2 separate regions of the Homo sapiens genome follow, and region 1 is linked to region 2. A link means that fine-mapping ties the variant in region 2 to the plasma level of a protein whose gene starts in the linked region. Region 2 holds a variant in brackets. A gene starts in the other region. All regions are shown on their forward strands. Region 1 holds the start of CETN3 (centrin 3). Region 2 overlaps PISD (phosphatidylserine decarboxylase).

What was found. A credible set is the group of variants that fine-mapping cannot tell apart. PIP is the chance, under the fine-mapping model, that this variant and not a neighbour inherited with it causes the effect. Protein levels are from antibody-based Olink assays in UK Biobank. Linkage for the fine-mapping came from a reference panel and not from the study's own genotypes, which makes the PIPs less certain.
Region 1: CETN3 starts here. The variant in region 2 is the best candidate, but not a certain one, in a credible set for the plasma level of the CETN3 protein (UK Biobank, PIP 0.70).

The regions. Positions count from the first base shown.
Region 1 is chr5:90,401,168-90,416,607 of GRCh38, forward strand. It overlaps CETN3 (centrin 3), which reads right to left and starts at 8,589. Exons shown (of 5, transcript NM_004365.4): 1 at 8,478-8,589; 2 at 6,532-6,667; 3 at 4,518-4,632. The coding sequence starts at 8,494. It overlaps LOC731157 (a long non-coding RNA gene), which reads left to right and starts at 8,833. Exons shown (of 2, transcript NR_105024.1): 1 at 8,833-9,137; 2 at 9,333-9,502. RefSeq lists an enhancer at 8,359-8,558.
Region 2 is chr22:31,627,258-31,642,697 of GRCh38, forward strand. All of the region lies in intron 3 of PISD (phosphatidylserine decarboxylase), which reads right to left. Among named protein-coding and RNA genes, the nearest start is that of MIR7109, 13 kb to the left of the region's middle. RefSeq lists enhancers at 1-579, 3,106-3,400, 3,818-3,977, 4,124-4,811, 11,540-11,619 and silencers at 3,328-3,747, 6,848-6,897. The variant G/A (reference allele first, on the strand shown) is at 6,445.

The DNA.
Region 1 (15,440 bases), not on the chromosome of region 2:
TCAGAGCTATGTGTCTATATATTCTTTTATCAATATTCTTCCTTAAAATGCAGCTTTTCTTGGGAATTATAAATGCTCATCATTTTGGACAGCAAAAACATTACCTAATATATAACTTTATAATGACTCTCCTCCATGCCTTCAGGTTCTATTCTTGTTCCACAAAGTAGAATTTAATTATAAGGAATATATTTATTTTCAATGAAAATATTAGTAAACTGATATAGAGGCAGTTAAGGTGGGTTTCATTTATTTCACAAAACTCCAAATTTCTGTCCATGCAACTGTATTTTCAAATGATTTAATTACACATACTATCAGAAATGTACTTCATCAAAATACTTTCTTAGACCTTTAATGTGTAAAAATCACTTAAGAATACGGCAAATCCAAAAACATCACATCAAAAGTAAATTAAAAATTATTATAGGTAATGCTAGAAATACAGCTTTAACTGTATTTCTCAATGTCTTTCGGAAATTTCTATCCAAACATACCAGTTAGACATGTTGGACTCCAAACTCATTCCACTACCACCATAGTAACTGCAGCTGCCTCCCCTACCCCAACCAAAAGATAACAGCAACATTTACAGCTAGATTCCATATTTGAAAAGCATAAATCATTTTCAGTCCCACAAACTTAATCAGGTCCTATAGTACTGAGAATACTGTTTTTTTTCTAATTTATTTATTGTTTTAAAACAAGGTCTCGCTCTGTTGCCCAGGCTGGAGTGCAATGGCGTGATCCCAGCTTACTGCAGCCTCAACTCCTGGGCTCAAGCAATCTTCCCACCTCAACCTCCAAAGTAGCTGGGACTACAGGCATGTGCCATCATGTCTGGCTAATTTTTTAAAATTTTTTTGTAGAGACAGGATCTCACTTTGTTGCCCCAGCTGGTCTCAAACTCCTGTGAGCGAGCAATCCTCCCGCCTTGACCTCCCAAAGTGCTGGGATTACAGGCATGAGCCACCAAGCCCAGCCTCTTTTTTATTCTTAAATGTATTTTCTTTTCACCCTCGCCATCCTCAGCGAAAAAAATAGTATTTTCTGTCTGCAGTCTCTCTTCCTTCCAACTCATCATCAATAATACTCTCATCAGTTTTCTTTCTCAAACATATCATATCCCCTTCCCTTAAAAATTGTGAATGATCTCTGCTGACTAGAATTCAAAATCTTCATGTTTTGCAAGACTTTACCAATCTGGCCCAATCCTATGTTTCCAGTCATTTCCCTATGTCTAGCCCAGAACACTACCTAGTTTCCCAAACATGCTATCCGTCTAGTACCATTCTTTGTTGTTGCTGCTTTCTAAGCCTAGAATGCTTTTTCTCTACTCTTCCTGGCAATCTTGGAATGAAATCTTACTCACATTTCCAAAGGCCTAAATTTAAAATCTCCTCTGCAAAGACTTCAATTCCTCTAGATCAGGGATTAACAAATCTTTCCTGTAAAAGGCCAATAGTAAATATTTTAGGCTTTGTAGAGGGCCATAAAGTCTCTAACTACTCACTCTGCCATAGTAGCACAAAAGCTGCATAAAAGAAGGGGTGTGGTGGTGTACAAGCAGCAGCTGAATTTGGTCCAAAGGCTATAGTTGCTGACTTCTGTCCTAGACAAAATTACAATTTACCACATAGTACTATAGCCTGTTGTCACCTATATTTACATTGTAAACTCCCTGAAAGAAGAACCTTTTAGTAACTTTTAATTAAGTCTTCTTCCCAACCCCAGTACAGTACCTAATACCAAAAAATTCAGTGTTAAATAAGCAAAATGAAGACAATAATACAGTATTACAATCTCAATCAGCAATAATAAGTAGTACATGTCAAAAATAGTGTACAAACGTTTGACTTATGTTAGTCTTAAAGACACTAATTCCTAAAATATCTATGTTACTCACTAGCCTCAGGCTGTCTTGACTCTAAACTTAAATTAAATATATTTTAAAGCTTTTTTCCAGTACTAGGAAGAGTCTATAATAGTTAACTGCCAAACTTCATCCAGATATATCTGTGGAACAGTGTCCTTGGGTAGTTCATAAAACTAGGACTCAAATGTTATGATTTAGAATCATCTGTCCCAAAGTATAAAACATATTAATCTGTGGTCAGTGATTAGTTAAAAATAATCAACAAAAGGGGTAATACATAGTTCCTGAATGATTCCCAAACAGTAATACATTTTTATTTGACACCTGGTACTCTCCATAGGTAGCCTTAAGATAGCTAAGATACATGTTGACCCTGTCAAAAGGTTAATCTTTTAGTGTCAAAGCTGAAGTTTAGCCACATCTATTTATTCTAGAAGGAACCCAGTATTTCTGCTCTGTTAATAACATAGAACAGATGGGGTGTCAGGAAAAAGTGGAGGTGGCATGGGATTCTGGTCCCAACTGCCAATAAAAATCACAATTTTTGGCCGGGCGCGGTGGCTCACGCCTGTAATCCCAGCACTTTGGGAGGCCGAGGCGGGCGGATCACGAGGTCAGGAGATCGAGACCATCCCGGCTAAAACGGTGAAACCCCGTCTCTACTAAAAATACAAAAAATTAGCCGGGCGTAGTGGCGGGCGCCTGTAGTCCCAGCTACTTGGGAGGCTGAGGCAGGAGAATGGCGTGAACCCGGGAGGCGGAGCTTGCAGTGAGCCGAGATCCCGCCACTGCACTCCAGCCTGGGCGACAGAGCGAGACTCTGTCTCAAAAGAAAAAAAAAAAAAAAAAAAAAAAAATCACAATTTTTAAATTGTGTTCATTTAAGGTGAAATAACATATTTTGTAAAATTATTAGTGATGATACAGTGCTTACAATAGCCTTTATGAAAAAAGTCAATAAAAAATATACACAAAGTCTATTTTATGTCCCAGTGATGCATATATGATTATTTCGAGCCCCTGAAACAAAGACAATTTTTTAAAGTAATAATAATAGCAAATGCTTAGTAGCACTTACAACATGCTAGGCCCTTTTCTAGGTACTTCACATATCATTAACTTAATCCTTAGAAGAATCTCATGAGAGAATACAATGATCCCCACTTTATAGTTGAAAATGAGGCATGGGGTATTAAAAAGACCAAGTTCCAGAGCTGTAAAGTGGCAAAACCAAGGTATGAACCAAGGGAATCTGGTTCCAAGTGCTAAACCACTATACTGTACTAAACATACCTGGATTATAGCTCCTTCCTAATAGTACCATTTCCACTATATACAAACACCTTGTTTCTACAAATAAACAATCTAAGGTAAAACTAGGAATACTACGATCATAAACTTCAGGAGAGTGTCCATTCTGGGAGAACAAAAGGTGGCTCTCTCCCTTTCCTCAAATAATTAATTCTACAAATTAGAGGAAAAAAGGAAAATGTCCCCAATGGACAAGTTGCCTCTCTAAACAGTCATATATTAGTTCATAAGTTGAGGATCTTCTGTGCTGTGTTTTTTTTCTCTTAGGTTCATCATTTATTTTCCATCTCAACTGCTTATGACTTGAGCTTTTGGATTTAAAAAACTGACTAATGACATGAATCTAAATTTTCTCTGCGTCTACTAATTGCCATTTCTTTTTGCTTCCCCTATTGCTTCTTGATTAATATTTAAAATAAGGGGTTTGTGTATATAGCAGAATTTGTTTCCAAATTTTTAAAATATCTTAAAATACTTATATGATGTGCTTATATCGTGACCCATTGGTTTAGAGAAAAAAAAAAAAAGAAATAAACCTGAATATTTACATATTTTGTAGATAATATTCTAGACAATACATTTAAGTTATAATAGCAACATCCTTGCCTTCCGGACTCTTCTATTTTGAAAAAGCCTGGTCTATATATGCTATAAATAATTCACTAAAATCAACTATAAAAAAATTTAGCCATATTAAGCCTATGACACATTATCTTCAGTTGGTGGTACTAGGATGTTTTCTCCTGCTTCCAGTATGCCCACTGCCTCCTTTACTACTACCCTCTAAACAGATGACTTTATCCACTGAGATCAAGGTCATCCAGAGGATGTAGCCTCTCATAAACTTTGTCAACCTGAAGTCGTGCATTTCATCTACAGCCAAAGATACCAACTACTACCAGTTCCCTCTTCTCCCACTTAGCCAACAAAAATCACATACCAGAAAGGTCTTGGGAAACATTTTCCAAACAGCAGGATATCAAATTTTCTGTTTTATTAAGCAAAAATAATTTTTTGATCACCCTTCAAGTTTTATCACATAATATAAATACAAACAACTTGGAAAAGCATCTTTCTATAAAAAGCTACACAATAGTTCCTTGGTTAGAATCTTCACAACAAAACAAAAGACAAAACTATAAATCTCAGAGCAAAGCCATATTTTTTCTTTGAAAAAAAAACCAACAAAACAAAACTGAGTAAGAGTCACATTATACACCAGTGTTCTATAAGAAAATTCCATAACCTAGAGAATTTAAAATTTAAAAAGTGATATTAATCAGACAATTTCCTAACAGCTGCTGATTACAAAGACTATTAAAATACACACCAACTTCATTAAAATCTTCAAAGGTGATTTTCCCTGTGGCTTCTCTGTCATAATCTTTAAGAATCTTCAGTACATCAGCTTTTTTTACATCAAACCCCAAGGCTCTCATTGCCACCTTTTGGATTAAAAAGGAAAAGCAAATTATAAAGCACTCTTTACAAAAGAATTTCTAATTATTAAGTTTTTACATCTTAAGAGATGACAACACATTAATAAAATATAACTTTTTTGCATGTTTTACCTCTTTAAAATAGCAGTGATAGTGTAATTGTTCTTCACTACTGAAATTAAGTATGCATAAGTTTTTTCATTTATAAATTGCATTTTTTATATGACAAAGTAACCAACAAGTGTTTACAGATTTTACTATATAAAATGCACTAACTTATTGCACAGATAATTTGATTGTTATTTGTTCTGAAGGGATTAACAATCAAAATGAGAAAAAGGCGTGGCATAAATATTAAACAGTTACATGATAGAAGAGATAAAACATTAAAACAAGAATTATCATCAGTCTTTCCATGATTAGTTACCAGGTAAATGATAGGGCTAAGGACCCTGAGTTTAGAGAAAAAAGAGATTTTGTTACTAATAATAAGGAAGGAGACATATTACTGACTAGAGAAGTCTTATTTGGAAAGATTCAAACTGTTCCTTGAAGGATAGATGAAGAGGAGCAGTAGGGTATTTGGGAAGGATGACTGGTATTAAAAGAAACACTGAAACGAATAGGTTCGAAGGACAATGAACAGAGCAGTTTACCTCACCTGAATTAGAAAAGTTCAGGTGAGGTAAACTGCTCACCTGAATTAGGAGGTGAATTCCACCTTAATTAGAAGAGTTCAGGAGGAAGAAAGCAGTTAGCAAATGAAAAAAGTAGTTGGTGGCAAAAGTGTAGAGAACATTCAGTAGAAAGCAAAGGAATCTGAACTTTAAGTAGTATACAATGAGGAGTTATGGTTTATGAGCAATGAACAATTTATGAGCAATGGTGAAAGAATTTTTAAACTATCTAAATTCAGTGGTAGTGTACAAGGTGAACTAGTAAGAAATCATTTAGGAAGCTCCAGGTATGAAATAAGGTCCCAAACCAAGATAGTCAATGGTTACAAATGGAACAGACATTATAAAGGAAGATCAAATCTGGGTAACCAAAAAAAAAAAAAAACAAAAAAAACAGTGGGAAAAGAGAGCCAAAGAGGACTGCAAGATTGAGAAAGCTAGACTTAGCAGGCCTATTAACTGCTTTTATACATTCTATCCTGTCACTGCATAGTTCCTATCCCTACTTGGAATTCTAATGCTTAAAAATCCCTTACGAAATTACAAAAATTAAAACTACCAAATAAACACTTACATTCACCTATCCATTAAGGCCATTAAAAATCTCAAAATACTATCTTTCCCACTGTGCTGAAAGTAAGTCCCATTCTACCCTAAACCCAAATCTCTCCTTATACCCTGACAAATAATAATTTACAAATCTCTCCCTACACTTTGACATTCTAGGTCTTAAAGCTGACATTTTTACCTATTAGCATGTGTCAACATCAAACAGCACTAAAGTTGTTTGCACCAGAGAAAGTGGATTGAGACTATGTTACTAACAAATCCAAATTATAAGATTAAAAGACAACACTCCCACAGTCTGAAAACAGTATGAGTCACCAAGAAACAAAAACAAAAACAAAAAACAGTGAAAAGAAGATGGTAAGAATAAATTCCAGTTTGAAATCCTTTAATTATGACAGTGAAAAATAAGCACCTTCCCTGGGAATGTATTTTTACATTTAAAATACTATTCGTTTTCTCATGTGAAAAAGATTTTCTAAAAACTATGTTAGGAGTTCTCTTCAGTTTTATTACAGCATCTAACTATGAATGCTTAAAATGCCTTCATAGTTCCAAAACCAATTTAGTTAAAATAATTATTTAGAAATGTAATGTAAAGCAACTGTAAAAATGCAAATCATTTTAACACAGAAACAAATATTTTAAAGTATACCATTACCTTTAATTCATGATAATCTATTGCTTCATCTTTGTCTGTATCAAATAGTTCAAAAGCATCTTTAATTTCTTGTTTCTGTTCCTCAGACAGTTCTCTTCTTTTTTTCCTCTTTGTTTTGTCCACTACAAGCTCACTTCTATGAAATGGAAAGAAAAAGCCCTTAGTCCACTTTAATTCTCTTTACTAACAGAAATTAGCCAATAATTACCTTCTAAATTTCAAAAAAGAAAGTACTTTGGAGAAAGATAGGGAAACTTTCCCTTTATGAGTCAATGACCTGTTTATTCCATAGTCTAAATTGCTATAAATCTGAACTTCGCAAAACTAAAGAGTGTTACAGATTATTAAAAGAAATGAGGACCAAACTTTTCTTTTTCCCAGCTTTTTATTTATTCCCACTAATGTTACTGTGGAAGAAACAAGAACTGTGAATAAGCAACACTACTTTTATGTCTGAAACTCCAACCAACTCCAACCAAAAAAACAAAAACACGTTATCCTACAAGAATGTTAAAGAATTTAAAAAAAATCTCCAAATGAAACCAAAATTCATAACTGACAATCACTATATATCGGTTTACTGTTGATAGTTCTGATAATTATGTTCATAAAATTACAAAAAAAAAGTGAATTAACTTATACAGTATTTTAGCACTGTTGGTTCAAAATGTTTTTAGATTACACGTTTTTAACAGTTTGGCAATTTATGTGTCATTTCCTCCATTGATATTAACAAACCATCGAAAATATTAATGAGTCTAAACATATGACAAATATTAGATGCCAATATACAATGTTTGTGCTTCATTCTATATAAAAATGTGATGAGTCTTGTCTCATTTAACATGTAAACCGGAGGTTAACTTCTCATAAACTCTGGAAACGCTTAAAGAAAAAAAGCAAAAATTATTTTAAAGCCAGAAATGTTTTCCTTAAGAGCTGCCCATCTAAATGTGCTCCAAATTTTCAAATGGAGCCGCAACACTGGAATAACGAGTTTTGAAACACAATCCGGTAACACATTAACATGTCAAACCAGTTGACTGTACTTAAAACACCTATCTAGTTGCATTTGAAAGTCGTTTTGGTCTCTGAAAGCTCCAAAAAAAAAAAAAAAAAGCTAGGAAGTGACTAGTAGGTGCAGTATAACAAAGCTGAGGAAGATCTTCCTTTCATGAGACCTGACTTGACACAAACTTGGGTATTCCTGGGGTCAGTCTTTTCCTTCCTGAGACTTTTGGAGGCCAAGTCCAGAACCGACCCACCCCTGACCCCATCCAAGGGTACCATGATTATCCCTTAGCAGAACATGGAATATTTTCGGAGTGTCGTAAGTGTATGGATAGTTTTACGGTACAACGTCTACATAGTGGGAGAGGGCAACAGAGGGTTAGAGGTTAGAACTGAAAGGTAAAAAAATGCAAGAAATTTAGGAAATCCAAGAGACAGACTGCCAATTAAAGTCACTAAAATGGGTCTCCAATTACACCGTAAAGCAGGGCCCTGGGAGAAGAGGAAAGAGTTTTTGTTATTTCCAAAATTTATAGGTGGGTGATTGCATTAGCAGCGGAGCAGCCGAGGTGGGGCCCTGACCAGGCACACGGATGAATGAAGGGATGTCCGCGACCTGATCTGAGAAACAAGAGTAGAAGCCTCGCGATATTTCATTCCCACCTCGCTCGCAACTAAGCCCAACCTTCTGGCAGTCCAAAGCCCTACGCGCTGACAGAAATAACCTCCTTAGCAGAAATGCACTGGTCTCGTTCCCTGCAGGGCATCAGAGCCCAGAGGGTGAGTGATCCGGGCAGGCTGCCCTAGGCTCCTTTCCCGCGTCCCAAACTACATCCCCTGCCTCGCCTCGGCCCCAAACGTCCTCCCTTCCACACACACCCTCCCTGGGCCCCGCTCCGGGGTGTGGAGAGCACTGCCGCCTCCTTATTACCGACCTCAGAGCTAAACTCATTATCTCTTCGCACAGAGACGTTCCTCTCAAGAACGATTTTAACCCCCTACCCAAGGCAGCAAGACGCCCACAGCCGTTCAACAGACACGAACGACCTCAGCGGCCTCAGGGACCTCCCACAACATAGACACTTTTGAGCTGGATTGGTTGAAATGTCGCTATGGTTCTGCCTATTAGGGGGCGGAAGCTTTACCAGTTCTATTTTCATTGGGTAGGTTTTACGTCAATCAAGGAAAAAAAAATTTTTTTTCTGTGCCCCGCCCACCTCCTAACGCCCCCCCGCCCCCCCAATCTAGGGCCGCTCTCGCCCTTCGGATTGGCTCGATGCGTTTTTCCCCGAATCCTTTGCGGGTCCGGCCTCCGATCCCTGTGTGGCTGTTTGGCGGGTGGGCGCTGTGTTCCTCTCTCGTAAAGCCGTGCGGTCTGTGGGCCGCCATTCAGAAACTGGATGGACAGCTTCGGCGGTGGGAAGGGAAGGGACATGCTGCAGGCCACCCTCCGGCTAGAAGGAGGGAGTACTTGAGGAACAAGGTCTGCGAAAATTGGCTGTGCTCTGTTCTAAAACTTGGAATGGCCTCAGTACCTGGGGAATGTGTTTAAAATGCAGACTTAAATGTCCGTTTCTCCATTCTAATTTCAGTAGGTATGAATCTGCGTTTTTACTCCTCACAAGCCTTCCAAGTGATTCTGAGGCAGGTGCTGTGGCTGTACTTGGATTATCACAGGGTTAGATTATCAGGCTATTTATGATTTAGCTGTATCTAAACCACCTTTCCCTCTCTTTCCTCCTTTGAACTGTTTGAAACGGATTTGTTCCCTTCTGTCTCTTATTTTTCAGTGCTGTAAGCTGTTAACACACATGAGACTGTCTTCACTACCAAACCAAGTCTCCTAAAGCTCACTTGAATGTCTGCTTATTCGTGTCTCTTACTAGGTTCAATTTCTTGGAGGCCGTGATTATATCTATTTAACGCTTTTCCTTGTACCTAATAAAATGTCTGGTGCGTAGGTGCTCGGTAAATTGAGTGGAATCTTTTGAAAATCCACAAAATACTGAGCTAAACAGCAAATCTCATAAACGTGAATAAAATAGCCTGAGGATGGGAGTTGAAGGCGGAGAATATATAAACATTATATGTTTAAGGGATGTATATAAAATTTTAGAGAAGGGAGAGAACACAAGATATGCTTCTTAAAGGAGGTGACATAAACGTTAGACCTAGAAGGATGGGCTAAATTTGCACAAGGAAAGATAGTATGATAGAATAAGCTAAAAATTAGCTAAGGGATAGCACCCCTAAAAAACAAAAGTGGAACTTTTATTTTGTTCGTATTTTAAATTTTAAAGTACCTTTATAAATCACCTTTGAGTCTAAAAGGAAAGAGAAATTGTAGTTACTAGAACATAATGATATTGAAAAAAACTATATGTTAAAATTTTAAGATACAGACCAAGTTATAGGAGAACATTATTTTAAATAAGAAAGAATAAAAATAGGCCAAGCATTTATTTGAAGATGTTAGAAACGAAGAACAAATTGTATAATTGAAATTAGGAAGAGGAAATTAGTAAAGATAAAGTTTGAGAACAGTGTTTTAAAAGGAAATTGGTAAAATTGATAAAGTACTCATAATCTAGTATAAAGCTGGTTTTTGGCAATACCAGTGAAATTCAAAGACTTATAGGAAGTGTAACAAGAAAAGGAATAGTGCCACTAGTAAGGTTGGTAATTTAATAAAAGGGAGGTTTAAAAATTATTAAAATATTTTATACAATTTTATACCGCCAATAAATATTAATAGAAAATGAAATAGTCACTTTTCAAGGAAAACATAACTCAAAAAAGGTGGAAAACTGAATTAAGTCAATAACTACAGACAGGACTGGAACAAAGATGCCAAAGTTCTGTACTCACAAATAAAAAGCCTCCAGCCCACTCAGATTTATGATTAAAAATCATAAGAGCTAAATCTTGTGCTTTAAACTCAAGTCATAGAAAATGATGGAGAGCTTCTTAGCTTAATTTTTGAAGCTGCCATAATCTTTCACATCCTAAAAGAACATTTAAAGTCACTCAGTGTAAGCTCAGTGATGATGAAGGCTATGCATGTTTCTCACCATTGTATCCCCAGTGCCTGACTCATGTTTGATGTTCATTTGTGAACTTAAGTGCAAAATTCCTAGATGTTAGCAAAGTCAGTTTGATACTGTCTTAAAGGAACATTTCTCTATAACTAAATTGAGTTTTTTTTTGTTAAGTGCAAAGATAATTCAAAATATAAATCTGTGTTAAATAATTATAATGTTAGGTTAAGGAAATCATCTCAGTGTCAAAAAGGCACTGAATAATAGGTAACACCTTTTCTATTAGGATATAAAGTGGGTTTAGAAAATACTTTTTTAAATATGATCGGCAGAATACTTAAACACCAGTGTTTCTCAAACCTCATTCCTGAAACACTAGGATTTTGTGAGATGCTTTTGGTCTCAGAGTGCGTTTTATAAGCAAATAATTTGGGCAAACAGATTTTAAAAGGTTTTCAATAGGGTGTCCTTTTAAGAGAGTGACAGGGAATTTACACGCATCACTTTTATTATATTTAATTAGTGAGAACTAGTGACAACCACTTCTTGCTTCACGGGAGGTTGAGGCAAGAAATCTCTAGATGGAAAACTGCTCTGCTGAAACTTGGGGTCTAATCATCTATTACTAAAGATAAGACAGGTGGTTACACTAATTATATTTTAAACCTAAATTTGATGCAATCAAAATTCTCATATTTTTCTTGAATTGAACAAAGGTATTCCAAAGACCATCTCAACAACAATTCTATAAAAATAACTTACTAAACTGTGAAAAAGAATAATAATACAAAAATTGCTGTATGGGACACTAAAATGTATTTGGTACAATGGTAATCAGACCAGAAATTCCAGAGACAGCCAAATGTAAATAAAAATGTCTGCTTTGAAAAGGTAGTGACATAAATATTTGTTTAGTCTGCCTCCTAAAGCCTTAATAAATCAAGAGTTCCTCTATCACCCACGCTGGAGTGCAGTGGCATAACTCACTGTAACCTCAAACTCCTGGGCTCAAAGGATCCTCCCGCCTCAGCTCCTGAAAAGTTAGGACTACAGAAGCATGCCACCATGCTCAGCTAATTTTTTTTAAATTTTACACTGTGTTGCTGTGTTGCCCAGGCTGGTCTAGAACTCCTGGTCTCAAGTGACCCTCCAGCCTCAGGCTCCCAGAGTGTTGAGATTACAGGAATTAGCTCCCATGCCTAGCCAATAAATTAATTTCTAAAGCTGAAGTGACCTGGAGAGGGACCATCAGCAGACTAGGTATTTAAAAAATTATTGGAAAGATCAAAAGAAATATGGAAACTTGTTGACAAATGAAACAGATCACTGAAGTGGCATCCTATAATTTTCCAGAGATGACTTATGTTTCACAGAGAGTTGATCTACCTAGCAAAGTCCCAGAGAGACTCCAGGAATAGAGTTCCCTTGTACAGTAGAAGGTGGAAATGAGAAGGGGGCTAAAAACAAAATGTCAATTTAAAACCTCTTTAGGAAACCACTGTACTTCAGTTCCTCCAGATTCCTCTCCCCAGTGTTTTGTCTCTTTACATCTATCTAGAACTCCACTCTTTTTTTTTTCCTTTTTTTAGAGACGGGGGTTCTCTCTGTTGCCCAGGCTGGAGGGCAATGACATGGCCTTAGATCATAGCTCACTGCAACCTCAACCTCCTGGGCTCAAGCAACCTCCCACCTTGCGCCTTGGCCTCCTGAAGTGCTGGGATTACAAACGTGAGCTACGGCACGTGGCCTGAGTCTTTAAAATGAATGAAGAATGAAAAACCATCAGAGATATGAAAATCAACAGCATGAAAGATAAAACTAAAAACCATTTCAGGAAGACTCTGAGTCAGCTAAGGAACCAAAATAAAATAATAAGAAATTAATAATAATAAGCTGCCTAAGAAGTACTCAAGAAAATATTAGAGAACAGAATACTCTGAAAAAGGAGCATTGGAGAATAAGAAAAGACTGTTGAAAATAAACATGAATGTAAAAATTAAACTGGCAAGATGATTTAATTGAAAAAATATCACAAAACTTGCAGTATTCAAACAAAAACATGGAGAATTTTGAGAAAAAAATGGAGGACTAATTCATTATTTGACTAATAAGAATTTCTGAAAGAGAGAACAAGAGGAGGAGGAGAAAAATATCACACATTGAAAAGATACTTCGAGGAACTGAAGATAAATACAGGTCTCCAAATTGATAGAACACATTTAGTACTGAGCAAAATAATAGTAAAAGAACCACACCTAGACACATAAAGAAGCCATTTCAGAGCATCAAAAATAAAGAAAAAGGCCTAAAAGCTTCCAGTCACAAGAATCTGACCTTTTATAAAAGAATTTAAGAATTGAGCTAGTATCAGATTTCTCATCAGAAACTTTAGATACCGAAAGATAATACCTTCAAAATTGTAAGTGAAAATTATTTTGAACTTAGAATTCTATTTCCTGTCAGAACAAAACTCAATTATGAGTACATAATAAAGATTTCAGAAAGTTCAATTATCATATACTCTTTCTGAAATATGTACTCCAGAAAAGTAAGAATGAAATCCAAAAATAAGATAGATGTAAAATACAAGAGTGTGGCAGATAGAATGACCCATCGAAGATGTCCATGTCCTAATCCTTGAAATTTGTTAATGTTACACTGCATGGAAAAAGGAACTTTGTAAGTGTAATTAAGGTTATTAACCTTAAAATAGGGAGTTTATCCTGGATTATCCAGTGGGCTCAGTCTAATCATGTGAGTCCTAAAAATCAGAGAACTTCTTCCACTTAGAGGCAGAAAAAATGAAGCAGGAGAGGTTAGAGAGATTTAAAGTATAAGAACTCTGGCCGGGCATGATAACTCATGCCTGTAATCCCATCACCTTGAGAGGCCGAGGCAGGTGGATCACCTGAGGTCAGGAGTTTGAAACCAGCCTGGCCAACACGAAACCCTGTCTCTACTAAAAATCCAAAAATTAGCCAGGCATGGTGGCACATGCCTGTAGTCCCACCTGCTCAGGAGGCTGAGGCGGGAGAATTGCTTGAACCCGGGAGATGGAGGTTGCAGTGAGCCAAGATTGCGCCATTGCACTCTCCAGCATGGGCAACAGAGTGAGACTCTGGCTCAAATAAATAAGTAGGTAAATAAATAAACCAAGTATAAGAACTCAATCCACAATTATAGGCTGAAATGAAATGAGATCATGAGTCAAAAGAATGAAGGCTGCTTCTAAAAGTTGAGATGACCCCAGCCAACAGCCAGCAAGAAATTGAGGACCTCAATTCTACAAAAGTACGGAACTGAATTCTGTCAACAACCTGAATAAGCTGGAAGTAGATTCACCCCGCAAAGCCTCCTGAAAGAAGCTCAGCCCTGTTGACACCTTGGTAGGCCTTGTAAGACCCTAAGTGGAAGACTCAGTTGAGCCACACTGTACCTAGACTTCTGATTTACAGAACTGCAACATAATGAGTGGGTGTTGATTTTAGCCACTAAATGTGTAGTAATTTGTTATGATAGCAATAAAAAACGAATACACCTCTTAAGAGGTGAAAGAGAAAAGAGGGAGATACAAGAGGCTTAGAAAGCAACTGGTCTAAGATAAATTGATAGACAACTAGGGGAATGTTTTCAAGAAAAAATTGAATGAGTTCCAAGCAGTAGATAGAAATGGATAAAGAGAACATGAACATACTCAGTGACATGGTGAAGAAAGTATTTATTTATTATTTACTCTAAAGGAAAAAAAGAAGGTAATTAGAAAGTCTTTGAAAAAAACTAAAATTTAATTGGAAAATTATGGCTTAAAAATGATGTAAACTAAAATAATCCATTATCAAGCTGCAGTGAACATTATGAAGTACCACCTACCATTCTCTTTTCAGAACCAAGGAACTTATATCCCCAGTTTCCATGAGTTTTGACTGCTAAAAACTCACAATTTAGTTCCCCCCAGGAAATTGCCCTCCACCAAAGGTATGTGCCTTGCAAAAGATTACACAACTTCCCTGGGGACAGAACACATCCAAAGACTGATTAGTGTGGAAGAAAAAAGGTTGGGCTCCTTGCCTCAATTCAAGGGAACTCTGAAGGTCTTCTCCAACTTCATAGTTCCCCATCTAGTTGGCTGAGGCGTCTGTTTTGACTGCACCATGGTTTAACTTCTCTCTATGCCCAATTCAGCTTCAGTCAGCTCCTTGTTTCTGAGAGGCTGGAAATCTCTTATCTCCTAATCTGTTTCCTAGAGAACTCACCCTAAGACACACCGTAAGAACAAGAACAAGACAAATATATTAGATCGCCACAAATACAGTTAGGCAGCTTAGCCTTAGAAACACAAATTTTAAAAGTGAAGTAAAAAACATGTTTAAAGAAAATGAGTGAACTTACTAGAAAAGAAGATGAAATATTTAAAAGACCACAGATGTTTAAAGCAGCTTTATTTATAATGGCCCAAACTGGGAAGAAACCAAGATGTCTTCAGTGGATTACAGGATAAACTATGGTACATCCACACAATAGACTATTACTCACCTCTAGAAAGAAAAAAAAAACAGGCCAGGCATGGTGGCTCACACCTGTAATCTCAGCGTTTTGGAAAGCCTAGGCAAGAGGATCACTTGAGGCCCGGAGTTCTAGACCAGCCTGAGCAAAATAGCGAAACCCACCCCACTGCCCCCCTTCATGTCTACCAAAAAAATAAAATTGTTTTTAGGGTTTTTTTGGTTTGTTTTGTTTTGGCTTTTTTTCAGATGGAGTCTCACTCTGTCACACATGCTGGAGTGCAATGGTGAGATCTTGGCTCACTGCAGCCTCTGCCTCCCAGGCTCAAATGACTCTGGTGCCTCAGCCTCTCATGTA
Region 2 (15,440 bases):
CAGGCAGGAGGGCGCCTACCCACCAGCAAACAGATACACACCAGCATCCTCCCTTGGGAAGGTGCCGGCACCAGGAGATTGGCACAGGCACAAGAGGCCCATTGCATCTCAAGGCCGAGGCCCAGGCCCATAGACAGCCCCAGTGTCCAGGCCTCCAGGGCCATGTCACTCCAACCACTCCGCCAACATACTGAGCAAACGCCCCACCCTCCCTGGCCCACCAGGCTCCATGCTGGCCTCCTGCCATCTGCCCAGGAAACAGGGGTGATAGCAGTCAGGGGTGAGCCTGGTGCCTGGTTCCAAAGGGGAAGCTCTTTCCCTGGTCTATAGAGTGCAGGCTTGGAACTGAGCTCACAGCCAGGATTCAGAGGGAGGCAAGCGTGGCCTTGAGGGGAGGCAGAGAGGAGGGGCCTTGGGGAGCCCCAGCCTCCTGCCAGTTTTCCTCACTGACCTACCATGTGGGACAGTGACGACCACAGCCCTGAATGTATTAGAAAGACATGAACCCAGATAAACCCAGCTCGGCCAAAAACCTTGGGTTCTCAAAGCAGGTTCCCCTGTGAGCCTTGGCATTTCATTCTCCCATGGTGCTGTGAGGGGCTGGGTCTGGCCTCCGGTCTCAGAGGGGGCCCTACTGAGGAATCAAGGCACATGAGGCCAGGGGCCAGGTCAGATGCCCATCAGGGAAAGGTGAGCCCTGGAGAGACTAAGAACCATCCTGAGAGGCCAGGCTGGGGCACCGCACCTGCCAGTGAGCCCAGTGAGGGCAGGGCGTCCTTGCCCATTTAGATCCTTGTCTTTATCACTGTTCTGCCTCTTCTAAAACAAGCGCCGAGACCAGGGTGTCAGTGCCTCCATATCACCAGCTGTGGGCCCCAGAAGATCGCCAGGGAGGAAAATGAATCCAGCTTTGCCCCAGGACACAGGCTGAGCACCGTCTGTCCCTCTCAGAGCTGCAGGATGGAGAGAAGGGGCGCCTAGAGGTTGCTGCCTTCTTGCTTCCCAAGGCCAAGCCACTTCCTTGGCCAGCAGTGTTTCTGGCCTCCCTATTTCAAATCCTGGCTTGCCCTCTGCCTATGACAGCCCTGGAAGCCCAAGCCAAAGATTTCATCCTCTCTGGCTGTCTTGAGGTGACACGAGGTGGGAGCCTCAGGCCCTGGATGAGGAGCTTGCAAGAAGGGTATCCAGAATGGAGGAAGCACTGACACCTTCCCTCCCTTCTAAGCCTCAAAGACATTCTGTGGAGAGGAGTTTAGGGTTGTGACCAATAGGACTTTAATGTCACTACATGGCCTAAGGGCCAGTCACCTGCAACATGAGAACTCAGAGGGCTTTGTGGCTGATGACAACCTGGTCACTGCAATCCTGGCTGCCTTCCTCTACCTCTGCCCTGAGAGCAGGGAAAGGCATTGGCAAGTCACAGGTAGTCTCTAAGTCTTGGTTTGTACATCTGGAAAATGGGAAAGGAAATTCCTCCTGGCCACCCCCTTGAGGCTCAGAGCACAGCTGCAACCATGGCCCAGAACAACTGCTCAGAAACCCCACTTCCACCTAGGAGCGCGACGCAGCCTCAGACCTGGCTTCCAACACCTCACCTCTCTTTCCAAAAAGTCAACCTCACACTCCGGTGGGGGCAGGGGTTTCCACCACAGGAAAGATGAAATAAGAGGGGCTTAGGTGGCAGTTCTAAAACAGGAACCCAAACTTGCGCGGAGTGACCGGCCCTGTGAATAGGAAACAATGGCTGATAGGACCGTATAGGGGGTAGGGGAACACCTTTGTCAGGACATGCTGTTTTGGGGATCCATACCAGAGCAGTAAGGCAGTGTCCCCACCCGTCCCTCACCAACCAGGGTAAAGACCACAACACCTGCCCCCCCAGTGGAATGGAACATTCCAACTGAAGTCGATGAATGACCCCAGGCCAGGCAGCAGTTACTACAGGTTGGGTTGGGGCCTGCAAGATTGTTGTGCGTGAGGGGTAGGTGCATGTAGGTGGAAGTGTGTGTGCATGGAGGATACGTGTGCAGGTGCAAGGGTATGTGCATGGAGGGGTGCGTGTATAGGTGCGAGGATGTGTGGGGTGTGTAGGTGTGAGGGTGTGTGTAGGGGGTGTGTAGGTGTGAGTGTGTTATGCGTATAGGTGGTGTGTGCGTAGGTGTGAGGTTATGTGCCTGGAGGGGGTGTGCACAGGTGCAAGGTGTGTGCATGTAGGAGGCATGTGCGTAGGTGTGAGGGTGGGCGCATATAGGGGTGTGTATGTAGGTGCGAGGGTGTGTGTAGGTGAGGGGGTGTGTGCCTGTAGGGGGCGCGTGCGTGTATGGGTGTGTAGGTGCAAGGGGTGTGTGTAGGTGAGGGGGTGTGTGTAGGTAGGGGGTGTGTGCATGAGGGTGTGTGTAGGTGCAGGGGTGTGTGTGTGTAGGGGTATGCGTGTATACACTTACAGTCCTGCTCCTAGTGGATTCTGGTTCAAGCCTTAGCAAGGCGGAGCAGGCAGTGAGGGATATGGCACTGTCACCTGCAGTCTGCAGCCCGCAGCCAGCTCTGCCGGAGTATATGTAGCTTTGCAGCTTGTGTGTTCAGCCAAGGACCCTGAGAACTGGCTCCTGCTGTCTGATGGGAAGCGCCTGGAACGCCAGGACCACCCCTCTTGAAGCCTCAGCAGAAACTTCCAGGGCCCCAAATCCTGTGTCCAGTGGCCTGACTGCGGGCCATGCACTTCCCCCGGGGGCGAGGGTGGGGGCAAGGGGCTGACTTTCTCCCCAGCTCAGCTGAGGCCTGGCCACCATGCAGCGGCGTGCGTCTAGTGGGGCGACAACCCTGCCTTCCCTGCATTCCTGAGCTAGAAGCAGGCAAACTTCCCAAGTAGGAGACGGGGAAAATGGTCCTCCCTGGGCGACATGGACCAGAGTCAGTGGCAGGCAGCCCAGGAGGCCCTGGGAAGAGGGCAGGCAGGACTCGCAGGGGTCTATCCTAGCCGCCCAAAGACAGGGAACCTCCTCTCAGACAACTCTGGGTGCTGAGGGGAACCGGCTCTGGGCAAAGGCAGTAAGCCGGCCACCCGCTCCCTGGCCCTCGGGCGCCGCCCTCTTCCCCAGGCGGCCTGCCCCCAGGCCCTCCGGCAGCACCAAGGAGACGGAGCTCTCAGCCCGGGCCCCGCCAATGCCAGCCGGCACCCCCTCACTTCCTGCAGCCGCCTCACTGCAGGCACCCCCTCACTTCCCGCGGCCGCCTCACTTCCCGTACGCTCTTCACTTCCCGTACCCGCGCCCGGCAGGAGATAAGATGTGGAGGAAGTGAGCTCACGCAGCCCGGGCCGTGCCCACGTGGGGACGGAAAAAAAGCCCACGACTCGCTCAACCTTGTCCGCGGGGCTCCTCAGGCCGGGGCCGCGTCGTCACAGCTGGGAGAGCCCACCTGCGACCGAAGGCCCTAGAAGGGCACCCCCACCCGGCACTGGCCCTCTGAGCGGGCAGGGTGGGGCGCCTCCCTGAGAAGTCACCTGGGGCTCCCGGCAGGGCCGGGGCGCCGGCTCCGCTCACTCACCCGCAGGTGGCTCCAGCTTCCGGGCTCCGACTCCCTAGGGGCGCTCCCGGAGCCGGGAAGCCTTGGGGCGAGTGGGCGGGGCTCGGGCTCCAGCCACTCAGACTACCAGGGGCGGGGGCAGGAGGCCGACCCCAGCCACCCTTAAAGCTGCCGCCCCCTCTGAGCCCCAGTCCTGCTGGGCCGTCCGCCCAACCCGAGGGCCCCTTTAAGAGGAAGGGCCAAGGCCAGGGAGAAGGGGAAGGGCAGCAGACACCAGCTCTGCTTGGTCACTGTCACGGGAGGACCCCACTCAACCAGCAAGGTGGGCCCGGCTGCTCCCAAGGGATGCCTCCTGTCTGTCCTCAGTCTGTCCGCTGGTCTGTGAGCCGCCTGTCTGCAGCCCGTGGCTGGCCTCCCAAAGCAGCTGCCTCCCCTCCACCACCCGCGACCCAACACTAGGCAGACTCAGGACCCCACGTGCTGCTGACCTCACTGAGGACCAGCTTCTTCACTGGACTGAACAGAAAGCCACCCCTGCTAGCCCTAGGAAGCTCCAGAGAATGCGAAATCCTTGATCCTTCCCGCATCCCATCTTGAAGCTACAAGGCTGCTCCCACCCCAACCTTCTGCCCTCCAGGCACGCAAAACCCTGACAAACAGAATGCCCTGACTCCAAAACTGATGTAGACCAGCGAACAAGGGCAGCCAGAAACAAGGTCCGACCGCCCCAGCCTAGAGCACACAGGCCTCCCTGCTTCACTACTAGGATGCAGAGCCCATGGGATGGATGATGCATGCTGTCTTCCCACCCCGCTAGATCGGAGGGCCCTAGTCTGCGGCTTGGCAGTCCACCCCGTACCCACATGGTGCCAGGCATCCGACAAGCACTCAGCCCACATGGGATCAGACCAATCAGCTTAATGCTTTTAGGGGAGGGGAAGGGTCTGAGAGGGATCACCATTCAACCAAAGAAAAGGTGTGGCATTAAGTAGCCTTGTTCACATCTGTGGGAGCAACTGAGCACGCCCATTCCCTATTCAATGGTGAGTTGGCCCTAGAAGTCTCAGTCTCCTCATTCTGAGCCACTGAACAGGATACAATTCCAGCGGCTTCTCACCACTGAGATCTTTGTTTCTAAAGCAACTAAGGCATGAAGGCTCATGCCTGTGATCCTAGCACTTTGGGAGGCCAAGGTGGGAGGATCACTTAAGCTCAGGAGTTTGAGACCAGCCTGGACAACATAGTGAGACCTCTTTTTTTAAACCAAAAAGAAAGAAAGAATTAAGGTTTGGAACAGGAGGAGAGGGTCTGTAGGGCTTGCGGAGAAATGGTGTGGGGGCCACGCCTGGAATAGGACATAAGGGTGTACAGTCACAGCCCCATACACCTGTCGTCCTTACCTGGATCCAGCCCAAGCAAGTGCCACATGACAAGCCACAGCCCTGGGATGCGGCAGGGGGAAGAAGACAGATAGGGTCCTCCTCCATGGATTTCCATGTTCTTCCATACCTACAATGCACCCATGGGAACAGGGAGGCAGGGGTGAACAAGGCACAGTGCCACCCCTAAGGGCCTCAGCATGTGGTACAGGGGTGGCAGATACCTTATACAAAGCTGCTCCTAATATTCTCCTGTCCAGACATCACTACGGGAGGTCCTCAAATAGTGTCATCATAACACTGATGAGAAAAAAAATCTATTCCAGCCAGGGCTACTGTCTGTGTGGAGTGTGCACGTTCTCCCCATGTCTGCATGGGTGTTCTCTGAGTACCCTAGTTTCCTCCACATCCCAAAGCCATGCACATTAGGCTCACTGGTGTGTCTAAATGGTCCCAGTCTGAGTGAGTGTGGGTGTGGGTGCACCCTGCCATGGGAAGACATCCCATCCAGGACTGGTTTCCGCCTTGTGCCCTGAGCTGCCCATCGGATAGGGGACCACCTGCAACCCTGAAATGGAGTAATTAGGTAAATAATTATCTAACTTTTTATTAATCATTCATAAATGCATGTATAGCTCACATTTCAATGGTTAATATTAGAAATGTTTGGGGTCTTTAAAAGTTCGGTGATGTTTTTGTGGTCAGAAACATCCATAGGAACTTAATTCTTGCTTCTATCAATCAGCCTATGGTAAAACTGGTTTCATTCTATGTTTTGCTTAAAGGTGAAGATCCCAAGAACCTATCATCAAGATTGAGAACTTACTGTAACTGATCCCAGCATTCTCAGAGCCCCAAAGAAACTTCAGACCCCTTCTCACCTCAGAGGTCCAAGGAAACACATGACATGGGATAAAATGCAATTAAAGCACAGAAAGATGTTGACGCAGAATCCTGCCACCACCAACTTCCAGAACTGGAAAGACCCTGGAAGACCATCCTGGCCTCCTCAAAGCCTCTAGTACTTACAGACCAGCCCACACAGGTCCCTGGGGACGGAACAAAACCAAGCCCCAGTTAGACCAGGGGAGAAAGGTCTGTAGAGGAAAGACCAGCTTCTGCACACATTCTACCTCCCATGTGCTGAGAGATCTCTGGGATTCTCACACTCTTCCCTGTGGAATGGCCAGCTCGGCTGCACTGCATCCACTGGCATTGCTTTTTAGCCATTCTAAGCCTCTAAGGCAGATGGGTGTTTAAAAACCCGTAAACCACCAGGCGCGGTGGCTCATGCCTGTAATCCCAGCACTTTGGGAGGCCGAGGCAGGCGGATCACGAGGTCAGGAGATCGAGACCATCCTGGCTAACACGGTGAAACTCCATCTCTACTAAAAATACAAACAATTAGCCAGGCATGGTGGCGGGCGCCTGTAGTCCCAGCTACTCAGGAGGCTGAGGCAGGAGAATGGCGTGAACCCAGGAGGTGGAGGTTGCAGTGAGCCGAGATCGTACCATAGCACTCCAGCCTGGGCGACAGAGC[G/A]AGACTCGTCTCAAAAAACAAACAAACAAACAAACAAACAAACGAAACCCATAAACCAGCCCACAAGTTGGCCGAGATTAGCACTACCCCACCTTCCAACCAGACCTCCACCACACATATTTTCAGTGGGGAAATGCCTCTGGATTTTGAACAATCACTTACAAGTGAATTTCCATTAGGGAAAAAAAATTGTCTGGAAATTTACTTTCCTACCTTGTATTTATTTCCTTCAGGCCATGGAGTCCTTTATTTCCACGCCTCCCACTCTGTTAGGACTCCCTTGGGTGGGAGTGCCACCTAGTGCCACTGTGAGGCTCTGCAGGCTCTCAGGCCACCTGCAGATGGAGGCCTCCCTGCCTCAGTCAAGCCACCTGTATTCTCTGCCAGGTCCCAGCTGTGTGAATTTCATGCACTACTTCTAAGGGGATGCCCTGTGCCAGGGAACAGAAGGTAGCTGCGGAACAGGGGTAAAAGGTGTCCTCAGCTAATTCTCATTTCCTGGCTCTTGGCTAATTCTCATTCCCTGGGGGCTGGCAGAAGCCCCTCAAGGAAGATGGCTGGGGTCTTAACGGCTAGTACAAGAAACCACAGGCAGGCATCAGCCTCCCCAACGTCTGGGCAGAGAGGCCAGGCAAGCACAAAGTGCCTTCAGGCTATTTCTCTACACACCAGATTCTCCTATCCCTGCCCAACTCCCCACTCATCTTTGAGAATCGTTTTTGGCAGTCCCACTAGCCTGCAAGATGTCCCGGATACCCCTGGCACATTCAGAGCCCCACCAGCAGCTCCCCAAGGGCCCTGCCCAGGCACTCAGGAAGGGCAGACTGGGGTGGAATTCAGAAAAAGTGCTTTAGGCCAGACGTGGTGACTTAGTGTCTGTAATCCCAGCACTTTGGGAGGTCAAGGTGGGCAGATCACCTGAGGTGAGAAGTTCAACACCAGCCTGGCCAACATGGTGAAACCCCATCTTTACTAAACATACAAAAATTAGCCAGGTGTGGTGGTGCACGCCTGTAATCCCAGCTACTCGGGAGGCTGAGGTGGGAGAATCGCTTGAACCTAGGAAGCAGAGGTTGCAGTGAGCTGAGATTGCCACTGCATTCAGCCTGGGTGACAGAGCAAGACTCCATCTCAAAAAAAAAAAAAAAAAAAAATAGAAAAAGAAAAAGAAAAAGTGCTTTTAGGCCTGGCACGGTGACTCATGCCTGTAATCCCAACACTTTGGGAGGCTGAGGTGGGCGGATCACCTGAGGTCAAGAGTTCAAGACCAGCCTGGCCAACATGGTGAAACCCTGTCTCTACTAAAAATACAAAATTACTCAGGTGTGGTGGCACGCACGTGTAATCCCAGCTACTCAGGAGGCTGAGGCATGAGAATCGCTTGAACCTGGGAGGTGGAGGTTGCAATGAATTGAGATCGTGCCATTGCACTCCAGTCTGGGCAACAAGAGTAAAACTCCGTCTCAAAAAACAAAACAAAACAAAACAAAACTGCTTTTAGGTAGAGCCTCCTGGCAGACAGCTTCATGCAGGGCTGCAGGTATCTTGAGTCGGCCATCCCTCGATTCCTTCCAGCCCAGAAGTTTAGCCTTGTGTTTAAGTTCCATGTCTTTTTTTTGGAGACAGAGTCTGACTCTATCCCCCAGGCTGGAGTGCAGTGGAATGATCTTGGCTCACCACAACCTCTGCCTCCCGGGTTCAAGCAATTCTCATGCCTCAGCCTCCCAAGTAGCTGGGACTACAGGTACCTGCCACCACACTGGGCTAATTTTTGTATTTTTAGTAGAGATGGGGTTTCACCATGTTGGCCAGGCTCATCTCAAACTCCTGACCTCAGGTGATCTGCCTGCCTCCCAAAGTGCTGGGATTACGGGCGTCAGCCACCATGCCCCGCTGAGTTCCACATATTCTTGAGACACGGTCCCTCCGCTTGTCCACACACTGACCGCTCAAAGCCATTGGAGGTAGCTCCCAGGTGGGTCCTGGGCCACCTGGGGGCATGGCTGTATGAGCCACCGTTCCGCCCTCTGCGATCTCCTCCTGCCCTAGAGTGAGCCCACAATTCTCTGAGGTCAGAGCTGGCCCCTGCCAGCCAGTTCCAGTGGCATAAGAACACTACAGGAGTTCAGGTGGCACTGGGGCAGGCAGGAGGCTCTGCTTCCCTGCCAACTTGACTATTTGCCCATTTCCACACTCACACCTATTAGGTAAGAAGTAAAATAGTACTAAAGCTCCACTCCCTGCCAGCATGGGGCCAGGTATTTACATACACATCACTCTTATTTAACAACTTTATGAGGGCATGAATGGCCCTATTTATAGATGAGAATAATAAAGCTACAGCATGTACATCGCTCACCAACATGGAGAACACGTCCGATACTGCCCACTACCAGGTACACCGCGGCGCCAGGACGCGTGCTGAGCACAGGCCCATGGGGCTCCAGGAAGGGGACAGGGAGAGAAGGAGGACACAGGCCACTTCACAGGGTTCTGCCTTATGCTTAGGCTGAATGGTGGTAGACCAGACAGGCTGATCTGTCTTTATTCCTTTTGATGAATTGGAATACTGTACTATACATTTTTTTTTTATTCTAAACGGAGGCTAGAAACAAGGAAGCAGCGCTCAGACAGGAGTGAGCATACCTGCAAGCCCAGCTGAGTAAGGCCTTTCCTGCACTGCTGCTCCCCAAACACCTCAGCCCTTGCCACAAGCCCCCAGGGCCATGCCTCAAAACAATAAAACCACCTTCCGGGTTCAAGCGATTCTCCTGCCTCAGCCTCCCAAGTAGCTGGGATTACAGGCACCCGCCACCACGCCCAGCTAATTTCTGGGTTTTGTTTTTTTTTGTTTTTGAGATGGAGTCTCACTCTCTCTCCCAGTCTGGAGTGCAGTGGCACGATCTCGGCTCACTGCAAGCTCTGCCTCCCAGGTTCACACCATTCTCCTGCCTCAGCCTCCCAAGTAGCTGGGACTACAGGCGCCCGCCACCACGCCCGGCTAATTTTTTGTATTTTTTTTAGTAGAGACGGGGTTTCAACGTGTTAGCCAGGATGGTCTCGATCTCCTGACCTTGTGATCTGCCCACCTCAGCCTCCCAAAGTGCTGGGATTACAGGCATGAGCCACCACGCCCAGCCTAATTTTTGTATTTTTAGTAGAGACGGGGTTTCACCATGTTGGCCAGGCTGGTCTTGAACTCCTGACCTCGTGATCCACCCATCTCGGTCTCCCAAAGTGCTGGGATTACAGGTGTGAGCCACCGCGCCCAACCTTTTCCCTTTTTTTAAAAAGATTACATATTCGTTGGGCGCAGTAGCTCACGCCTATAATTTCAACACTTTGGGAGGCCAAGGCAGCTATATCACTTGAGCCCAGGAGGTTGAGACCTGCCTGGGCAACACGGCAAAACTCTACAAAAAAAAATAATAATAAATAAATTAAAAAAAAAAAAAAAAAAAAAATATATATATATATATATATATATATATATATATATATATATAGAAAAATTAGCCGGGCATGGTGGTGCACGCCAGTAATTCCAGCTACTCAGCAGGCTGAGGTGGGAGGATCGCTTGAGCCTGGGAGGTTGAGGCTGCAGTAAGCTGTGATCACACCGCTACACTCCAGCCTGGGCAACAGAGCAAGACTCTCTCAAAAAAGAAAAAGTTGTGTTTTTTGTTTGTTTTTGTTTTTTTTTAAAAGAGGTTACATATTTACCATTAAAAATCTCTCACTGGCCCTAAACTGGCAACAGTCATCTAACCCTGGTCTCACGCCACTCTGAACCGGACCCTCCTCTGTACTTCCTCCTGCACCAGCTCGCGGCAGCCACAGGGCTGTTCTGTTCAGACCTGAGAGACCCATTCAGGCACTCACGCTGGGACGTGCATGTCACTTTACTCCAGTGACTGAGGACCTGAGAACTCCTTCGTCCTCCATTTTCCAGAGCAAAGAAGAAACAGTGAAAGCTACAGAAAAGCATCTCTGCTTTTGTGAAAGCACAATTCTCTTCCCATGCTGACTCAGTCTGGGGAAGAGGTCAACTTTTGGATCCACTCTTCTGAAGAAGCAAGTGTCCCGCTCCCCTCACCCGGCACTGGCTATCTTGAATCAGTGAAGAGGAAAGCTCTTCACTCCCTAATGTCACGTCCTACACATTACAAGCTCTGACTGAAATTTCTCACTCAGAATGTTTGTAACCTAAACATTTAGACTGAGTGGCAAGGAAGGAGGATCCATGTGCTTCCAGAAATAAGGCTCGGCCCCAGACAGACCCAGAGGCCGCCCTGCCTTTGGCGTGGGAGCCGCAGGCTGAGCAAGTGCCTCCCCTCGGGCCAGGCCCTCTGTCCTCCAAACCACTGGGCCAGGAGAGCCTGGCCCTGCTCTGTGGCCACTCAGGCAGATGTATTTTGGCTGTGCCTGCCCTTGGCTGTGGGGCTGCTGCCAGGTGGTGGTAGCCCCAGGATGAAACCAGCCCTCCCCCAAGACCTAGATCCACGGGGCAGAGGCAACACAAAGGAACTCAGGACGCTGTGACCGGGCACAGCTCAGGCCCAAAGATGTGGGGCAGGTCCAGTCACAACAGCAGCCCCACGTCCCTTCTGGAGAGTCTGGACGGCCACCCCTGCTGTCAAGCCCCTGCCCCATGGGAAACTCACCTCCACTTGACCTAACTGCAAGCAAAAGTGTCCACCAAATGCCCTGGGTCTGTGGAGGGGCGAGGAAGGGGGGATGAAGGGGGATGAAGTGGGGAAGTGGGGAGAACAGGGAAGAGGGAGAAACGCTTGTTGGCCAAGAAGACCGGCAGAGAGGAAATGACACAGCTGCCCCAAGAGAGGCAAAACGGGTAGTAAGGACACCCGCAGGCCACTCCTCCCCTCAGAGATCTGCCCCCATCCTTCCCTAGCCTCTGCCACAAAAACCAGTTCTGTCTCTACTACTAGCTAATGGTTTTTTCTTTGTAGAGGCATGGTTTTGCTATGTTGCCCAGGCTGCTCTCAAACTCCTGGGCTCAAGAGATCTTCCTGCCTCAGCCTCTCAGGCAGCTGGGACCAGAGGCACACACCACCACCCCTGGCTGATTTTTCTTTTCTTTTCCATTTTTTTTTTCTTTCTTTTTTTTTTTTTTTGAGATAGAGTTTCGTTCTTATTGCCTAGGCTGGAGTGCAATGGCGCAGTTTCAGCTGAGGTGGGAGGATCACCTGAGCCTGGGAGGTCGAGGCCGTGGTGAGCCCTGCTCACACCACTGCACTCCAGACTGGATGACAGAGTGAGAGCCTGTCTTTTTTTTCCTTTTTTTCCCCCTGAGACAGCGTCTCGCTCTGTCACCAGGCTGGAGTGCAGTGGCATGATCTCAGCTCACTGCAACCTCCGCCTCCCAGGTTCAAGCGATTCTCCTGTCTCAGCCTCTCAGGTAACAGGGACCACAGGCACACACACCACCACCCCTGGCTAATTTTTCTTTTCCTTTTTCTTTTTTTTTTTTTTGAGACAGAGTTTCATTGACCAGGCTGGAGTGCAATGGCGCAGTCTCGGCTCACTGCAACCTCCGCCTGCTGGGTTCAAGTGATTCTCCTGTCTCAGCCTCCAAATTAGCTAGGATTACAGGCGCCCGCCACCACACCCAGCAAATGTTTTTGCATTTTTAGTAGAGACGGGGTTTCACCATGTTGGCCAGGCTGGCTAATTTTTTAATGTATTTTTTTGTAGAGACAGAGTCTTGCCTTGCCAGGCTGGTCATGAACTCCTGGGCTCAAGCAATCTTCCCACCTCAGCCTCCCAAAGTGTTGGGATCACAGGCATGAGCCACCATGCCTAGCTGAAAGTGTATATTTTCAATTAGATGTTTTGTAACCAAAAATTTGAGATATAATCTAAAACAGTATTTGTCAATTTCAGGAAAAGAGGAAACAGGCAATATGACATGATTGCTGAATGATTTTTTTTATGACTTTTGGGGACAAATAGGCAGCATATCTGAAATCACAACCGCCACACAAAGGCAGGACATATGACCACTGCAGCAGTATAAACTATGGATCCATAAACTACAGATCTGTACCTGGTAGCCACCCACCCTCTGTCTGTGCTCACTCACCGCGGCTCTGAGCACAGGCCTCTATGTCAACAGCCAAAGCCACAAGCCACACCTGTGGAACCCAAGTGAACACTCAGGCCAAGAACCAAGAATGTTCCCAGGACATCATGAGTTCCTGAAAAGAAACTCAGAGAAGCGGCTCTTCTACTTCTCAGCAGTCCCTGAGCTCCTGCCTTCAAGAGTGCCCTTGGTACCCTGCAGAAAATCACCTCTGCCCACTGATGGGCCACAGGTTGAATCAGGGACTCAAGGGAATAGCACTCTGGAAGCCAAAAAGCATTATTCAAGCTGCGCACACTCCACGCGACGGGGCTAAATGGAACTAAAAGGAACACTCTGGGTCTTCAACCTGAGCAGCTCAGCAAGCAGCTTTCCAGAACACGATTTCAAGCTACTTTTTTTTTTTTTTTTTGAGACAGAGTCTTGCTCTGTCACCCCGGCTGGAGTGCAGTGGCACAATCTCAACTCACTGCAACCTCTACCTCCTGGCTCAAGCAATCCTCCCACCTCAGCCTCCCAAGTAGCTGGGACCACAGGCCCATGCCACCACACCGGTTGATTTTTGTATTTTGAGCAGAGATGAGGTTTCACCACGTTGCGCGGATTGGTCTCAAACTCCTGAGCTCAAGTGATCCGCCACCTCAGTCTCCCAAAGTGCTGGGATTACAGGCATGAGCCACCACTCCAGGCCTCAAGCTACCCTTTCTAGAGACATCATTCTGTGAAATAAAAACTTAAAATAAAAACATCCTTTTTGTTTCGGTTTGGTTGTTTTTTTTTTTTTTTTTTTTTTTGAGACGGAGTCTCGCTCTGTCAACCAGGCTGGAGTACAATGGCACGATCTCGGCTCACTGCAACCTCTGCCTCCTGGGTTCAAGCAATTCTCCCACCTCAGCCTCCCGAGTAGCAGGGATTACAGGTGCCTGCCGCCACGCCTGGCTAATTTTTGTATTTTTAGTAGAGACAAGGTTTCACCATGTGGGCCAGGCTGGTCTTGAACTCCTGACCTCAGGTGATCCACCCGCCTCGGCCTCCCAAAGTGCTGGGATTACAGGCATGAGCCACCACACCCGGTGTTTTTTTTTTTTTTTTTTTTTTTTGAGATGGAGTTTCACTCTTGCTGCCCAGGCTGGAGTGCAATGGCGCAATCTCGGCTCACTGCAACCTCCACCTCCTGGGTTCAAGCGATTCTCCTGCCTCAGCCTCCCAAGTAGCTGGGATTACAAGTATGCACCACCACTCCCGGCTAATTTTTTGTATTTAGTAGAAGAGGGGTTCCACCATGTTGGTCGGGCTGGTCTTAACTCCTGACCTCAGGTGATCCACCCACCTCGACATCATGCTCAACTAACGGATAAAAGATTCACTCTTACCATAGATCTTATCAAAATCAGCATATGATTTTTTTTCTTTCCTTTTGAAGTCCAGAACTTTCACATTTTCACTTAAAGAAGGCACTTTACCACTTTCTCTTCGGCAATCCAAATTGCCAGAATTGCTATTATTGCACTTTGGGGCCAGTGTTAAGCCAAATAAGGGTGACCTGAACACAAGCACCAGAATACCACGACAGCTGATACGGTAACTGAGATGGCTACTAAGTGACTTATGGGCAGGCAGCATAGACACTGAGGTCACAATGGACAGAGGGAGGATTCATATCCTAGGTGGGAGAGAGAGAGTTCATTATGCTACTCAGAACAGGGAGACATTTGAAACTTAGGAATTGTGGCCAGGTGCGGTGGCTCACACCTGTAATCCCAGCTTTGGGAGGCTGAGGTGGGCAGATCACCTGAGGTCAAGAGTTCAAGAACAGCCTGGCCAACAATGGTGAAACCCGATCTCTACTAAAAACACACAAAAAAATTAGCCAGGTGTGGTGCCACAAGCCTGTAATCCCAGCTACTCGGGAGGCTGAGGCAGGAGAACTGCTTGAACCCGGGAGGCGCAGGTTGCAGTGAGCTGAGATCGCGCCACTGCACTCCAGCCTGGGCGACAGAGTGAGACGCCATCTCAAAAAATAATAATAATAATGATAAAATTTAAAAACTTAGGAATTATTTCTGGAAATTTACATTTAATATTTTCAGACTGCAGGAACATGAAACCTTGGATAAGGGGGAAACACTCCGATTGTTTTAGAAGCCAAATGCATGCCACAAACCATAAAGGTGTCCATACCCTTTCAGGCAGCAATCCTACACGTAGGCTTTCATCATGAGGAAAAGGCTTTATGTGCAAAGGTATGCTCTGCAACATTATTCATGGTGGCAAAGACCACCAGTATACCAGAATCAACTGAGGTGGTAAAGCCTCAGTGGCAACCAGAGACTTCAGGACCTGGGCGCCTGTCACCACTGAGGAAGAGCCAAGAGTGGCTCCAGGGTGGCTCACACCTGGAATCCCAGCACTTTGGGAGGCCAAGGTGGGAGGATCGCTTGAGACCAGCCTAGGCAACATAGTGAGACCCCATCTCTACAAAAAATAAAAAATTAGCTGAGTGTGGTGGTGGTGCATGCCTGTGCACCATGTCCCAGCTACTTGGGAGGCTGAGGTGAGAGGACTGCTTAAACTCGGAAGGTTAAGGCTACAGTGAGCTGTGACTGTGCCACTGCACTCCAGTCTGGGCAACACAGCAAGAGCCTGCCTCAAAAAAGAAAAACAAAAAACAAACAAACAGCTGAATCAATTTAAAAATACAGAAAAAAGGACAGGTGTGGTAGCTCACACCTGTAATCCCAGCACTTTGGGGGCCCAAGGCAGGTGGATCACAAGGTCAGGAAATTGAGAGCATCCTGGCCAACACGGTGAAACCCCATCTCTACTAAAAATACAAAAATTAGCTGGGCGTGGTGGTGCGCGCACCTGTAGTCCCGGCTGCTTGGGAGACTGA